Linked DNA regions of Homo sapiens: region 2 is linked to region 1. Evidence: fine-mapped expression QTL. A gene starts in region 1. The other region holds a variant in brackets. All regions are shown on one strand. Distances are between the middles of the regions.

Region 1 (5,365 bases):
TGAGCCCAGGAGATTGAGGCTGCAGTGAGCCATGATTGCAGTAAGATGTGATCACATCCAGTTACATTTGATTTTCAGATAAACAACAGAAGTTTAGTGGAGGCTGGGGGCAGTGGCTCACAGCTGTAATCCCAGCACTTTAGGAAGCTGAGGCAGGTGGATCACCTGAGGTCAGGAGTTCGAGACCAGCCTGGCCAATATGATGAAACCGTGTCTCTACTAAAAATACAAAAAAATTAGCCGGGCGTGGTGGCGGGCGCCTATAATCCCAGCTACTCAGAAGGCTGAGGCAGGAGAATCGCTTGAACCCGGGAGACGGAGGTTGCAGTGAGCCAAGATTGTGCTGCTGCACTCCAGCCTGGGTGATAAGAGTGAAACTCCATCTCAAAAAAAAAAAAAAAAAAAAAACAAATTGGGGTTGTCTGTCTTTTCTCATTGTTTCCATTGTTTCTGGATCTGTGTGTCAGAGATGTGTGCTGCACACATCCTTTCTCCGCCTAGCTTGGTTTTCACTCTTGGTGGTCGCAGACATCTTGGGGGCTACTTGAAGGAACTCTAAGCCGACCAGAGGCTGGGCTGGACTCGCCGTTTGGCGCCCAGCCGGAGACCCCAGGGCCACCCTCCCCGGTTCCATCCTGGGAGAGAAGAAACTTCCACTGTCCCAGTCTCTCCTGTGGTGACTTCTTTTGCTCAAGGGTTCACAAGGGCAGCAGACTGATCTGCACAAGAGGGACTGAGCCTGGCTGCGGCCGCACCTGATGCCTGTGCACACCTGTCCCTGGTGGTCTCTCCTGTGGTGACTTCTTTTGCTCAAGGGTTCACAAGGGCAGCAGACTGATCTGCACAAGAGGGACTGAGCCTGGCTGCGGCCGCACCTGATGCCTGTGCACACCTGTCCCTGGTGCAGGCCCTTCCCCCGCAGCCCCGTGACCTTGTCCTGTGAGGCTCACGGTGCCTGCTCCTTCTCAGAGTCCTCATTTCTCCCTTTAACGCACGCCCTGTCAGCGCCTCCGTCTAGCCCGTGTCCTCCAGACCTTCGAGGTCAGGGGCCTCAATTCCTGGCACAGCCCCTCCACTCCAGGCCTCCCAGAAACAGACTAGAGCATCAGGATGTGCGCCGCCTGGGGTCCCACAGAGTGGTGCCCCCTTTTAGTGTCTTCTAGGCCCCTTAGTGACAGACTACAGAAAATACCTCTCAGGTCACAGGTCACCCCTCTTTGGTGAAGAGTCCATAGAATTCTCTGCTGCGCTTTGCAAGCACTTTCTCTTCTGCACGTTTGGAACCTACCCCGGCCTGTCGTGTCTTTCTCCTGGCCTCCTCGCGAGCCGAACCTACTGTCCGGTCCCGGGACCCCCTGCCCAGGGTCAGAGGGGCGCCTACCTAGCTCACGGTCTTGGGCCGGAGGGAATGGAGGAGGGAGCGGGGTCGACCGCTCAGCTGTCCGCCCAGTTTCGGAGGCGGCCACGCGAGGATCAACTGTGCAACGGGTGGGGCCGCGGCTGACCGTGGTGGTCGCGGGGGCTGAGGGCCAGAGGCTGCGGGGGGGGGGCGGCGGGATGAGCTAGGCGTCGGCGGTTGAGTCGGGCGCGGAGTCGGGGGCAGGGGGAGCGGGCGTGGAGGGTGCGCACGAGGTCGAGGCGAGTCCGCGGGGGAGGCGGGCAGAGCCTGAGCTCAGGTCTTTCTGCGTCTGGCGGAACGGGCCTGGGAGGGAGGTTTTGCCAGATACCAGGTGGACTAGGGTGAGCGCCCGAGGGCCGGGACGCACGCACGGGCCGGGTAGGATGGCGCTGGCGTCGATGCCCGCGCGCTTCAGGGCCTGGTCTGGCCGCCCCTCCATCCTTGTCGGTTTCTCGGGTCGCGGACCCCGCGCGGCGCCGGGCGATGCTGGCCTGCCCGTGGCCACCACCTCGCTTCATTCCCGTCTCTTTGGGCCGCCGCATTCGTCCACGTGCCCGTCTCTCCCTGCGCAAAATTCCAAGATGAGCAAATACTGGGCTCACGGTGGAGCGCCGCGGGGGCCCCCCTGAGCCGGGGCGGGTCGGGGGCGGGACCAGGGTCCGGCCGGGGCGTGCCCGAGGGGAGGGACTCCCCGGCTTGCGACCCGGCGTTGTCCGCGGTGCTCAGCGCCCGCCCGGGCGCGCCATGGGGAACCGCAGCACCGCGGACGCGGACGGGCTGCTGGCTGGGCGCGGGCCGGCCGCGGGGGCATCTGCGGGGGCATCTGCGGGGCTGGCTGGGCAGGGCGCGGCGGCGCTGGTGGGGGGCGTGCTGCTCATCGGCGCGGTGCTCGCGGGGAACTCGCTCGTGTGCGTGAGCGTGGCCACCGAGCGCGCCCTGCAGACGCCCACCAACTCCTTCATCGTGAGCCTGGCGGCCGCCGACCTCCTCCTCGCTCTCCTGGTGCTGCCGCTCTTCGTCTACTCCGAGGTGAGCCGCGTCCGGCCGCACGAGCATCCTCACCTGCTCCTCGGTTCCCCGTCCCTGTCCCTACGGAGGACCCGGCGCGACCCGGCCCCTTTCTGGTGCGGAGCTTCCAGCTGGGGCGGCGGCAGGGGCGCTGCGCCTTGTCCCTCGGCGATACACCCACCGCCGCCACCTCGCGACCTTCCACCCGCTGCGCTGTCTGTCCCCCGACCCTCGTTCCTCTTCTCCTTCCCCGTCTGTCTTGGCGTCTGTTATCCAGGAGATGCCCGTCCTTCTATCCAGGGACCCCGGAAACAGGCGACTTTGTCAAGCCCAGTCCCCTCCGTAGCTGGATTTCACCTCCAGGGCAGCCAGCTGGACAGACAGGCAGATGCAGGCTCAGCCCCCTGGCTGCCGTGGGACACACACACACACACACTGCCACAGCCACTGCCCACCACACACACCTAGTGCAGATGCTGGCACACCCCCAGAAGGAGGCTCACAGCTCGCAGGGGAGACCTGGGCTGGACAAAACCCAGGGGAGGGGAGGGTGTGTGGGGACCAGGCCCCTGCTGAGAACCCTGGGGGGAAGCCTGAGGGGGAATTGGGGGATGGAGCCCACACTCCACACCAGGTCTGGCCCTCGAGTGGGTCGGCCTTGGTGCCAGCCCCTCTGCGGCCAGAGAAAAGCAGCTTAGGGCTGAGCTGGAGACGCGGTGTCCCCGACTGTGGGGGAGGGGGACTCGAGGTTTCCCCTTGATGGACACAGTGAATCCAGGCGGCTGGGGCAGAGACCAGCAGCACGGGACACGCGTGACCTGTGCTCCTTTCGAGCCGCAGACGTCACAGTGACGACGTTTAAGCTCCTAATCTCCCCAAATCGGCGGGAAGGATTAGAGGGGCTGCCTGCTCCTTTGCCCTTGGAGAGAGTCACTCCACGTGGAGTCCTACGCTGGGCACTGGGCACGGTCTTCATATTTTTAATTATAATTTATCTTCAAGACAATTATGATGTGGATACTATCATCACCCTTGTCTTACAGATGAAGAAACAGAAATGAATTAACGTGCCCGAGTCTCCCACAGAGAACTTAGCCAACAGAGCAGCCAGCTTCGCTTCTAGGCCCAGCGGGGACCCTGCCTACCCCAGGCTGGGGAGGGGCTCCCTTTGAGCCCGATGATATCAGGCCCGCCCCCAGGGAATTCCCCAGGCCGTTCTCATGTTTGTAACAAAAGGGAGACCAAGGCCAGAAGCCGTGATTCACGCCTGTAATCCCAGGACTTTGGGAGGCAAAGGCAGGAGGATAGTTTGAGACCAGCCTGGGAAACATACCAGGCCTGGTCTCTACAAAAAATTTTAAAATATCAGCCGGGGGTGGTGGCTGCGGCTGTTGTCCCAGCTATTCGGGGGAGCTGAGGCGGCAGAATCGCTTAAACCTGGGAGGCGGAGGTTGCAGTGAGTTGAGATCTCACCACTGCACTCCAGCCTGGGCAACAAGAGCGAAACTCCGTCTCAAAAAACAAAAAGAAAAACAAATCAGCCGGGGGTGGTGGCGCGCGGCTGTAATCCCAGCTACTCTGGAGACTGAGGTGGGAGGATCGCTTGAGCTCAGGAATTCCAGGCTACAGTGAGCCATGATGGAGCCACAGCACTCCAGCCGCGGTGACACAGCGAGACCCTAACTCAAAACAAAGGGAGATCTGCGTGGGGAAGGGGTGTTTCCCTGCCCGGTCCTCTGGCCTCTGGCTCACAGCCGGGCCCCCTTCTCCGTATTCAGCCCTGGAACTACCCATAAGAGTGGGGGCGGGTCACAAGGGCCCGCGGTGGCTGGGAAACCTCAGGGCCTGTGGTGTCGCCGCGCAGGTCCAGGGTGGCGCGTGGCTGCTGAGCCCCCGCCTGTGCGACGCCCTCATGGCCATGGACGTCATGCTGTGCACCGCCTCCATCTTCAACCTGTGCGCCATCAGCGTGGACAGGTGCGCCGCCCTCCCCGCCCGCGCCCCGGCGCCCCCGCGCCCCGCCCGCCGCCCTCACCGCGGCCTGTGCGCTGTCCGGCGCCCCCTCGGCGCTCCCCGCAGGTTCGTGGCCGTGGCCGTGCCGCTGCGCTACAACCGGCAGGGTGGGAGCCGCCGGCAGCTGCTGCTCATCGGCGCCACGTGGCTGCTGTCCGCGGCGGTGGCGGCGCCCGTACTGTGCGGCCTCAACGACGTGCGCGGCCGCGACCCCGCCGTGTGCCGCCTGGAGGACCGCGACTACGTGGTCTACTCGTCCGTGTGCTCCTTCTTCCTACCCTGCCCGCTCATGCTGCTGCTCTACTGGGCCACGTTCCGCGGCCTGCAGCGCTGGGAGGTGGCACGTCGCGCCAAGCTGCACGGCCGCGCGCCCCGCCGACCCAGCGGCCCTGGCCCGCCTTCCCCCACGCCACCCGCGCCCCGCCTCCCCCAGGACCCCTGCGGCCCCGACTGTGCGCCCCCCGCGCCCGGCCTTCCCCGGGGTCCCTGCGGCCCCGACTGTGCGCCCGCCGCGCCCAGCCTCCCCCAGGACCCCTGCGGCCCCGACTGTGCGCCCCCCGCGCCCGGCCTCCCCCCGGACCCCTGCGGCTCCAACTGTGCTCCCCCCGACGCCGTCAGAGCCGCCGCGCTCCCACCCCAGACTCCACCGCAGACCCGCAGGAGGCGGCGTGCCAAGATCACCGGCCGGGAGCGCAAGGCCATGAGGGTCCTGCCGGTGGTGGTCGGTGGGTTCCTGTCCTGAGGGGCGGGGAGGAGAGGAGGGGGGGGGTACGAGGCCGGCTGGGCGGGGGGCGCTAACGCGGCTCTCGGCGCCCCCAGGGGCCTTCCTGCTGTGCTGGACGCCCTTCTTCGTGGTGCACATCACGCAGGCGCTGTGTCCTGCCTGCTCCGTGCCCCCGCGGCTGGTCAGCGCCGTCACCTGGCTGGGCTACGTCAACAGCGCCC
Region 2 (5,365 bases), 47 kb after region 1:
ATTAGGGCTTCTTTACTGAGAGGTTCGATCTTGAAGGTCGGTTTCCCAGATGGGTTCTTCGCTGTGGCTTTCCTCGCCTCTCTGGTAAACCTGCTGACCTACAGTTTAGTTTCTTGCTCTAATGGAACTGCTGGCCTCCTCTTAACTGCTTACCATCAAAATGTCCATTCTTTTCCAGGGCACTTTTAGGCTTGAACATCCCCATACTGTTTCAAATCAAGTCAGTTCCTTTGGGAGGGGCTTTGGAGCTCTCTGTTCTTACGGCCTCTCTCTCTTTTGGGCTGAATGTCTGAGCCCCTACTATAGACCTAGAGGCAGGAACAGTGCCTGAGTCTATCAGAGGGAATTCTGTTGCATTAGCCGGGTTCTGTGTGGGGGGCAGCAGCCTCTCACTGCATGGACACCCCACCCTATGGGCAATGTGGGTTGATGGAAATTGGGGCTCCGTATGCTTGGCCTCCCATGCCTGGGTAAAGCCTCTGCCCTCTGAGTGGGGATGACTGAAGAGATTTTCAGTCACACTTCCCAGGAATTTACTGCAACTTAGAGCTGAAGGGGTTGAGAAATGCTGGTGGCCTGCCCCTCCCAGTGAGATACCATATCCCTTGACCGGGAACTGCAAGGAGTGGGAACCGTTTTCTTGGTCACAACCACCCACAATGGAGCCTCCACCATAGGGAGCTGGGGGCAGAAAGGGAGGGAAGGAGCTGGTCGTAGCTCAAACGTCACAATCCTCACTGCCCTTTCCAAGACTTACTACATTTTCTTGGATGTTTATTTGCTGTACTCCCCTAGGACAATTTCTGGAGACCTTAAGGGGTTATTTTTTCACAATTTTCACTAGTTATTTCTCTGGAGAGTTGGTCCACTGAGCTCATCACACCACCACTCCCCAAGCGGAAGCCAAAAGTTCTAAAATTTGATGAAGTCCAATCCAAGAAATCCTAGTTCTAACTCCAGGTCAGGAAGATTTTCCAATGTGTTTTCTCCTAAAAATGTTATAGTTTCACCTTTCACTTTAGATCGATGACCCATTTTGAATTCATTTTTGTACCAAGTGTGAAGTTTAGGTCATCCTTTGTCTCTGCTGATGAACGTCCTGTCACTCCAAGGCCATTTGCTGGAGTCTACTATGACACTCTAGTCTGACCCAGATCGTGGGGTCTCTCCCTCTGCCAGTGCCACACTATCTTGATTACTGTCACGAGCCCGTAAGTCTTAAGACCCCGCAATGTGATTCCACCCATTTTAAACTTTTATTTCAAAACTGTTTTGGCTTTTTTGTTTCAAAACTGTTTTGGCTTTTTTATTTCCTTTACCTTTCTATGCAAATTTTAGAATCAGCTTGTCTGCATCTAAAAAGAATCCTGCTGGGATTTTGATAGTCATTGTGTTAAACCTACGAATCAACTTGGGAAAAAGTCGCATCTTTACTGAGTCTTCTAATCCACGGGCGCAGGACGTCTTTTGACGTATTTCAATCTTCCCTGGTCTCTCTCTTCAGCATTTTCTTTAGTATCTTCCACGTACAAACCCTGTACATGATTTCCTAGACTGACATCTAAGTACTTCAGTGTTGGAGCCCCTGCAAATGATCTACCTGCAGGCTCAACTGCCAATGGGACCGACGTCTCCTCCCGGCTCCTTTACTCCTGCAGCGTCTCTAAGAGTCTCACCGACTGGCTTTTCCCAATCAACTTCAAAATTATTTTACGTTCACAAAATTGTTTTTTCCACTAGAATCACATGAAATCTATATATCAACTACACAATTCTAGGATGTTTAGTGTTTCACCCCAAGAACACGGTAGGTCTCTCCATGCTCTTTTTTTTTTTTTTTGAGGTGCAGTGGCTCACGCCTGTAATCTCAACACTTTGGGAGGCTGAGGCGGGCGGATCACATGTGGTCAGGAGTTTGAGACCAGCCTGACCAACATGGCAAAACCCCATCTCTACTAAAAATACAAAAATTAGCTGGGCATTGTGGCACATGCCTGTAATCCCAGCTACGCGGGAAGCTGAGGCAGGAGAAGTGCTTGAATCCAGGAGGCGGAGGTTGCAGTGAGCCGAGACCGCGCCACTGCACCCCAGTGTGGGCGACAGAATGAGACTTCGTCTCAGAAAAAAAAAAAGAAAGAAAAATTATTTTGGGTCTTTGTGAAGCAGTTAAGAATTTAGAATAAGGAAATACGTCAAAAAGGCGTTAAAAGCTCTACACATGAATAAGTTTACAGTAGCATTTTTCTGACATGTTACAAAATGAGGAATATAAAATGGCATGCATACAAGGAAAAGCGTGTATGTTTAGTTTTAGAGTTAAGGCGGTGACATTATAACCGCTTTTCATTATTTAAGGTTTCCACAAATGTTCTTTGAGCAACATCTTGGGGGCCAACCACGTGTTCCCCATCGAGACATCAGGATTCACTGTGACGTATCAGGGAGGAGGGAACAGAGCAACCCAGGAGAAGTGAGGACAGTGTCTCTCTCCAAGGCAGAGGGCAGGAGGGAAACAGCCGAGAGGCCAAGGGCTGTGGGACCCACTCAGCCGCCCCCAGCCCCACCAAGTCATCCTGTTCCAGACACGCTGGCCACTTACTAAGGTCATGTCGTCGCAGCAGGCAGCACAGGTGCAAGAGGCAGCGTGAGGGTTTAAGATCCCATCCTGAGATGTGAAAAGAACCACCATGCATTAGCAAGTCAGCCCCTAAATGTCAATCATTCAATAATAGAAGATTTCAACCACTTTTACCACTTACCTACCATTCATAAATATAAAAATTCTTTTTTTTTTTTTTTTTTTTGAGACAGAGTCTTGTTGGGTTGCCCAGGCTGGAGTGCAGTGGCACGTTCTCGGCTCAGTGCAACCTCTGCCTCCCCGGCGCAAGCAATTCTCATGCCTCGGCCTCCCAAGAAGCTGGGATTATAGGTTTGCACCACCACACCCAGCTAATTTTTGTATTTTTAGTAGAGACAGGTTTTGCCATGTTGACCAGGCTGGTCTCGAACTCCTGGCCTCAAGCAATCTGCCCGCCTCGGCCTCCCGAAGTGCTGGGATTACAAGCGTAAGCCACCGTGCCCAACCTCATAAAGATAAAAATTCTGCAAAATCAGGGCCGGGCATGGTGGCTCATGCCTGTAATCCCAGGACTTTGAGAGGCCGACGCAGGCAGACCACCTGAGCTCAGGAGCTGGAGACCAGCCTGGCCAACATGGTGAAACCTCGTGTCTGCTAAAAATACAAAAATTAGCTGGGCATGGTGGCGCATGCCCATAGTCCCAGCTACCTGGGAGGCTCAGGCAGGAGGATCGCTTGAACCCGGGAGGCAGAGGTTACAGTGA[G/C]CTGAGATCACACCACTGCACTCCAGCCTGGGCAACAGAGGGAGGCCTTTGCCTCAAAAAAAAAAAAAATTGTGAGAAATCAGGTAATGCCCAGGCCAGGTGTGGTGGCTCACACATGTAATCCCAGCACTTTGGGAGGCCGAGGCGGGTGGCTCACTTAAGGTCAGAAGTTCAAGACCAACCTGACCAACATGGTTGGTCTCCATTAAAATACAAAAATTAGGCCGGGTATTGTGGCTCACGCCTGTAATCCCAGCACTTTGAGAGGCGAGGCAGGTGGCTCACTTGAGGTCGGGAGTTCGAGACTAGCCTGGCCAGCGTGGTGAAACCCTGTCCCTATTAAAAAATACAAAAAAAATAGGCCGGGTATTGTGGCTCACACCTGTAATCCCAGCACTTTGGGAGGCCGAGGCAGGCAGATCACCTGAGGTCAGGACTTCAAGACCAGCCTGGCCAACATGGTGAAACCCCATCTCTACTGAAAATTAAAAAAAAAAAAAAAAAAGCCAGGTGTGGTGGCGGGCACCTGTAATCCCAGCTACTCAGGAGGCTGAGGTGGGACAATCCTCTGAGCCTGGGAGGTGGAGGTTGCTGTGAGCCAAGATCAAGCCACTGCACTCCAGCCTGGGCAACAGGGTGAGACTCTGTCTCAAAAAAAAAAAAAAAAAACCACAAAAACAGTAATTTCCAGAGCCTTCTCCTTTTCACAATGCCATTATTGGTGGCAGGACCTACCTCTTTCCTTTCAAGATTTGCAAAAGTCTCTACAGGAATTGCTTCCTTAACAACACCCAAGGAGCTAAACTGGAATAGGAATTAGAAGTCCTCTTTTCTTAGTAGACTGACGAGAAGTTAGGTGACTTTGAAAGGGTCACACGCATTCAAACAGAAGCGATTATCTTAACTTCTACTGTTTTCATTTTTTGTGTATTTGACACGCCCCCTTTCTGCAGCTATTCTGTGCCAGGCGCTGTGACCTCATGCACTTCTCCCAACAATCCTCACAGGGTCACGATCATCGTCATCCCCACGTGAAAGACCCGGAAACTGAAACATGAGAGGGTAAATCACTCGCCCAAGGCCACACAGACAGCAGGTGGAGGCTGCAAACCCCATTTGTCTGACCCCGTGGTCTGTGCCCTCCCTCTGGCTGGGCCGCCTCAGAGGGCCCCACGTCTGAACTGTGTGCTGAGCACAGGTGAGGTCACGGACGATACCTGGATGAGGCACTGCAAGGGTCGGCCCGCGTAGCGAATGCTTCTTTTCCAGTCCTTACTGCTGGCTCTTCCTGCCATGGCCTCAAACTCGGTGGGACTGTACCAGTTCTCCCCCTGCTTGATGCACCGTCCCCGGCCGCCTGCAAGGAAGGGCAGCAGTCATGATGATGGCAGGTGGGAACGTCACCTCTGCCATTGCCTACCTCCTGGCGCCTCCTCAACCCCTCCACCAGCACCAGCGCCCCAGCGGCTCATGTGATCTCACCCACCCACATACTTGGCCCTGACAGGTCCACCACGGGTCTGCCTTTGCAGCCTGTGCCTCTGACCCCCTACGTGATCTCTCCACCCGCTGTCCACAGGCAGTGCAAGCTCAACCAGGTCCCACACTGAGCACCTCTGGTACCCACTTCCAGAGCCTTCATCTACAAGTCCCAAGCTAACCTGGCAACTTGAGGAACACGTCCCAGCCCTGCCTCCCTCCTGCTTCTTCTCGCTTGTCTCCTGTCCCGTGGGTCACGATGGCTTTTCACCCCCAGATGGTTCCTGGGCGCAGCCCTGTCCCGTGCCTCTCCCAGGCCTCAGCTCAGTTCACAGGAACTGGGTGTCACCTGCACCTTTTGTCTTGTTTTTTTGTTGTCGTTGTTGTTGAGACGGAGTCTCGCTCTGTCGCCCAGGATGGAGTGCAGTGGCGTGATCTCAGCTCACTGCAAGCTCTGCCTCCTGGGTTCACGCCATTCTCCTGCCTCAGCCTCCCGAGTAGCTGGGACTATGGGACTACAGGCGCCTGCCACCACGCTCCACTA

What was found. PIP is the estimated chance that this variant, and not a neighbour inherited with it, causes the effect.
Region 2: its variant is fine-mapped to the expression of DRD4 in prostate (GTEx, PIP above 0.99).

Annotation. Positions count from the first base shown.
Region 1 is chr11:635,162-640,526 of GRCh38, forward strand. DRD4 (dopamine receptor D4) reads left to right here and starts at 2,108. Exons shown (of 4, transcript NM_000797.4): 1 at 2,108-2,428; 2 at 4,272-4,384; 3 at 4,487-5,145; 4 at 5,240-5,365. The coding sequence starts at 2,144. RefSeq lists enhancers at 390-925, 926-1,459, 1,995-2,528, 2,529-3,063, 3,064-3,597 and 3 more.
Region 2 is chr11:682,299-687,663 of GRCh38, forward strand. DEAF1 (DEAF1 transcription factor) reads right to left here. Exons shown (of 12, transcript NM_021008.4): 5 at 4,560-4,699; 6 at 2,600-2,665. Among named protein-coding and RNA genes, the nearest start is that of DEAF1, 10 kb to the right of the region's middle. RefSeq lists enhancers at 4,288-4,788, 4,789-5,289. The variant G/C (reference allele first, on the strand shown) is at 3,343.